Regions from separate parts of the Homo sapiens genome. Here region 2 is linked to region 1. A link means that fine-mapping ties the variant in region 1 to the expression of a gene that starts in the linked region. Tissue or cell type: whole blood. Region 1 holds a variant in brackets; the other region holds the start of a gene. All regions are shown on one strand. Distances are between the middles of the regions.

Region 1 (2,753 bases):
CTACTGCCTCTTCCACGCCGCTTTGTGACGATTTCATATTTCAGGCATCTGCTCCCTCTGTCCGAAGAAATCCCCCTTGAGGCTGGAAGCGTCTCCTCCTCCTCCCTCCAGCCCTTGGCCTGGTATACAGTAGGTGCTCAATGAACACCTTCCTCCAAGAGCCCTGAGAGCCAGCTATCAGGAGCATCACTTTACAGAGAAAGAAACACGTTCAGAGAGAGAAGGAGACCTCCCCTACTGGGGTCACACAGCACAGCAGCCCAGGGCCATTTGGTGGGGAGAGCATGGGGTGTCATGAAGTCCTTCTGGACCTCTCTGGGGCCAGGAATTGAACCATACCCGCCCCCCACAGCATCCTGTGGGGGGCCTGGCCTGCAGCCTCCCAGGGATGCGGTTTCTGGGCCTCCAGCCAACGCGACAGTCTGGGAACAGAGCCTGCTTGAGTCACAGGTGGCTGCGTGAGTGCCAGGCCACCGCCAAAGCCACTGGGAATACACAGCTGGTGGGGAGGACTGCAGAGTGGGTGAAGGGGGCAGACAGGGCAAGGTTACACACACAGGTTCCCGAGGCCTCCTTCTCACCCCTCACTTGGGACAAATGGCATCTCCCAGCCTTGGTTTGCTCATCTGTGAGACAGGGAGGCTAAATGTGGCTTTTAGAAGATGCAGTGAGGGGCCGGGCATAGTAGCTCACGTCTGTCATCCCAGCACTTTGGGAGGCCGAGGCGGGTGGATCACCTGAGGTCAGGAGTTCGAGACCAGCCTGGCCAACATGGTGAAACTCTATCTCCCCTAAAAATACAAAAATTAGCCAGGCATGGTCATGGGCGCCTGTAATCCCAGCTACTTGGGAGACTGAGACAGGAGAATCGCCTGAACCCGGGAGGTGGAAGTTGCAGTGAGCCAAGATTGCACCACTGCACTCCAGAATGGGTGACGAGAGCAAAACTCCATTTCAAAAAAAAAAAAAAAAAAAAAAGACAAAAAAAAAGGTAAAAAACTTTCCATGAGCACTCGCAGTGCACTTGGTGTGTGCGCTGCTGTGTGCTAGGCGGAAGGCACATTGGGGAACAAGCCCATTAGACAAACTGAGAGGCTCCAAGCTGCTCGATGGAGGGACAGAGAGAAAGGCTGTCCAAGCTGGGCACAGCGAAGATCAAAGGCCTGGGACTGGAGGGACTTGGCCTGTTTGAGGAAGGCTGAGGGGGTGGAGCCCGGGAAAGAGTGAGTGAGGACAGGCCAGGGGGAAGGAGGTGGTGCGGCAGACCAAACAGTGCAGGCAGCCGGGCGGTGGCTCACACCTGTCATCCCAGCACTTTGGGAGGCCGAGGTGGGTGGATCACCCGAGGTCAGGGGTTTGAGACCAGCCTGGCCAACATGCTGAAAATCCGTCTCTAATAAAAATACAAAAATTAGCCGGGCGTGGTGGCGGGTGCCTGTAATCCCAGCTACTTGGGAGGCTGAGGCAGGAGAATCGCTTGAACCCAGGAGGCGGAGGTTGCAGTGAGCCAAGATGGCACCGCTGTACTCCAGCCTGGGCAACAGAGCAAGACTCCATCTCAAAAAAAAAAA[G/A]AAAGAAAGAAAGAAAGAAAGAACGAAAGAAAGAGAAATTCCAGGGTAGGTGGGGTGCAGACGGGACCCTCACGGCAATAGGGAATCACGGCAGGTTCTGGAGCCCAGTGGCTAAGCTTCCTCTGAGGGGCTTCCTCTGAGGGCCACATAAGGAATGGGCCTGGGCTGGGCTGTGGCAGATGTCCAGGTGCAGATGGTGGCGGCCTGGACTAGGGGTGGGGGACGGGGGGCAGAGGAGGCGATGGTAGCTTCCAGAAGGTTCCACACGGAACAACCTGCTGCACTTGGGGTGCCCCTGCGTTTATTGCACGGCACGGCCGTCTCCGCAGGCTCACCCAGGCCGTGGGGACAGGAGGTCCTCGGACACGAAGCGCCCGGGATGCGCACGGAGGGGTTCTGCACCCGCGCTCCCAGTGTCCCCGCACCTGCGCCCACGTGGCCTCTCACACCTGCGGCCCCAGCCGCCGCGCACGCGGCCCAGCGCAGCCCCCGCGCGCCCCCGCCAGGCGCGCCGAGGAGACCGGCGGGCGGTTGCGCGCGGCGGCGGCGCGCACGGCGGAGCCCGGGAGGCGGCGGCGGCGGCGGCGGCGGCGGCGGCGGCTGCTCGTGTCGGCTCCGGGCGGCCCCCGCGCCGCAGCCCGCGCCGTGTCCGCGGCGGAGCCGCCCAGGTGAGTGGCCGTGCCGGGGCCCGGCGTGGGGCGCGCCCGCAGACCTGGGGACCCCTCACCTGCACCCTGCGACCCTGCCGCCCAAAGCCCCCAACCCGCGACCCCATCCTCAGCCGGGGGAAATTGCCCCGCGCACCCCTCCCGGGCTCATCGCTCCTTGCCAGGCCCCCGACGCTCCCCCTGGAAACTTTGGGGGCGAACTCCCCACCCTGGGGCCCCCCGCCCCTCCTCTGGGGCGCCAAGGAGCGGGGAATCGGGTGGGCATCTCCCCGGGGCACTGGGGACGCTGGGAGGATGCGCTCCTCTCCAGGAGGAGATGAAGGGGGCACTGGTTGGGTCTGGGGTGTGGGGAACGTCCGAATAGAGCCTGCAGCCCGCGCCTTCCTGCCCTGTCTCCCCCGAGCCGGGTCTGGTCCAGCCTGGGGGTGCGGAGCTGGAAGACGCAAAGGGTATCTGGGGTCCACACCGGAGCCTGCTCCATCGCTGGAGCTGACGGCCCGGCCTGGCGGGGAGG
Region 2 (2,500 bases), 72 kb after region 1:
AAACAAACAAAAAACCGATGACGACCAGGGGAAATGAGCTTAAGAATTGAGGAAAAGTGGCCTCTGGGACCTGGGACTAGACCATTGAGAAGGAATTAGTTTTTCGTGGCAACACCGTTCTCTCCTTAACCTAGCCAACAACCTATTTTCCAGAGCTCCGCCTGGCTGTTTGGTGTCGTCCAAGGATACACAAGAACAACGGTCACAGCGGGGTGCACCTGCAAAATGGGGCCAGCTAACGTGTTCTGGTCGCCTTTGGCATGATGTTGAAGCCGTCACTCCCATTTTAAGGGAACTGAGGCTCACAGGAATTACATCACAGAGCCCCAGTCAACTAACAGGTATAGATGAGCATACAGAAGCGTTCTCGGCTACAAGGAAGGCGGCCGAAACCATTTCAGCCGCGATCCCGATTCGACCCCAACGAATCTTGGTTGTTTCTTTTTTATTTTGTCAAACAGGGTCTTGCTCTGTTGTCCAGGCTGGAGTGCAACGGCACAATCACAACTCACTGCAGCCTCGACCTCCTGGACTCAAGCGATCTTCCCGCTTCAGCCTCCAGAGTAGCTGGGACTACAGGCGCGCGTCACCAACCACGCCCGGCTAATTTTTTTTTTTTTTTTTTTTGCAGTGATGGGGTCTCGCTATGTTGCCCAGGCTGGAGTGCAGTGGTGGGATCATGGCTCACTGCAGCCTCGACATTCCGAGCTCAAGCGATCCTCTCGAGTAGCTGGGCCTACAGGTACAACCACCACTCCTGGCTAATTTTTTAAAATTTTTTGTAGAGATGGGGGTCTCGGTGTGTTGTCCAGGCTGGTCTCGAACTCCTGGCCTCAAGCGATCCTCCCGCCAAGGCCTCCCTGAGCAGTGAGATTACAGGCGTGAGGCCCCGCGCGCGGCCTCCCAACAGGAGTTTGGAAATAGAGTTCCTGGCGGGCCCGACCCTCCAGGCCCGCCCAGCGCGGGGCCTCAGGATGCACAAGGCCGGACGCTCACGGGAGGAGGGAGGGGAGCGACGCCGCCGCCCCACCCTCGGCCCGCGGCCTGTCGCAAGCGCCTCTCTCCTACGTCCGCTGTCCCCCAGGGAACCCCCGGTCCGCGTCGGCCGCCGCCCTCAACCGCCTCTACTCCTCACCAGAGCCCAAGGCCGCGTTATCTCCTCCTCGTTTCGCCACCTCCACGACTTCGTTTGGCGAACGGCGGGCAAAGAAAGCACTTCCGGGGCAAATGAGACGGGCCCTCTGGTGTGCGCATGCCTGGCCCGCCCAGCGGCGTGAGTCAGAGGGTCCCGAGGCGCGAAGGAAAAGGCTGGAGGGGGAGAGGCTGAAAGCGCGGCCTGGAAGGCAAACTGCGCGTGCGCACAACGCTCTCAACGAACCCTCGGTCCGCTGCGGCCGCACGGGGCCAACTTTCGCGAGGGAGCGGCTGACACTCTCCGGGCGACGTTATCGCTCCCTCCGCCTGCGCCTGGCCGCTCTAGAAAGGGGTGCCAGCCATCGCTGGGGTGCCTTGATTCTGTTCCACCTTGGTCCGGTTTATTTCAGTTTAATGGTTATGTAACAACGGTCCGTCTCTCCTACCAACCGGTACCCCGCCCACGCCAGCAGCCACGGGTCGCCAGCGCCACGCAGCGGAGGCGGGCGGCATGGCTGGCCCAAGGTGCGCAGGCGCACTAGCCCTGGGGGTGCTTCCGTGTCTGCGCCCTGAGACATTTTTGGCGCCGGCCCCAGCCTGAGCGGGGACGGCGGCCGGGAGGGCGCGGCCCGGGTTCCCGTTCCCCGCGGAGCCATGCGGTACAACGAGAAGGAGCTGCAGGCTCTGTCCCGGCAGCCGGCCGAGATGGCGGCCGAGCTGGGCATGAGGGGCCCCAAGAAGGGCAGCGGTGAGCGGGACCCGGGAGACCGAGACAGTGCCAGGGGCGGGAGGCCGGGGCCGGGGTCTGGGCGGGGGTGCCGGAGGCCGGAGTCCGGGTCGGGGCGCCGGGGACGGGAGGCCGGGGTCCGGGCGGGGGCTGCCTGCGCCCCTGAGTGCGCGCTGTGCCCGCAGTGCTGAAGCGGCGGCTGGTGAAGCTGGTGGTGAATTTCCTCTTCTACTTTCGGACAGACGAGGCCGAGGTAGGGGCGTCCCGGGCGCGCGGGCGGGTCCCAGGCTGGGCCCCTCGGAGGCCGGGTGCTCACTGCCCCGTCCCGGCGCCCGTGTCTCCTCCAGCCCGTCGGAGCCCTGCTGCTGGAGCGCTGCAGAGTCGTCCGGGAAGAGCCCGGCACCTTCTCCATCAGTGAGTGGGGCTAGGGAAGCCAGCGGCGCTTCCCGCAGCCCGGGGCACCCGCAGCGCCGCACTTTCCCCTCCCCGGGCGCCCAAGGTCTCCTCTGTGTCCCCAGCCTGGCGCCACCCTCCTCAAACACAAGAGTGCATTGTCCACGGGCAGCTCAAGGTCAAGTTCTCCTGGCGGGCACCACCCTTCCCACCTGCCGAGTCCACTTAAGCTTGGGTCCCTCCCAG

The links. PIP is the estimated chance that this variant, and not a neighbour inherited with it, causes the effect.
Region 2: it holds the start of SF3A2, and the variant in region 1 is fine-mapped to the expression of SF3A2 in whole blood (TOPMed, PIP 0.98).

The regions. Positions count from the first base shown.
Region 1 is chr19:2,307,562-2,310,314 of GRCh38, reverse strand. LINGO3 (leucine rich repeat and Ig domain containing 3) reads left to right here and starts at 2,161. Exons shown (of 2, transcript NM_001101391.3): 1 at 2,161-2,239. The variant G/A (reference allele first, on the strand shown) is at 1,572.
Region 2 is chr19:2,235,537-2,238,036 of GRCh38, reverse strand. SF3A2 (splicing factor 3a subunit 2) reads right to left here and starts at 1,213. Exons shown (of 9, transcript NM_007165.5): 1 at 1,136-1,213. PLEKHJ1 (pleckstrin homology domain containing J1) reads left to right here and starts at 1,708. Exons shown (of 6, transcript NM_018049.3): 1 at 1,708-1,882; 2 at 2,047-2,114; 3 at 2,209-2,275. The coding sequence starts at 1,789. It overlaps MIR6789 (microRNA 6789), which reads left to right and starts at 2,111; the gene lies at 2,111-2,208. RefSeq lists silencers at 928-1,027, 1,638-2,267 and enhancers at 1,448-1,497, 1,076-1,684, 2,293-2,500.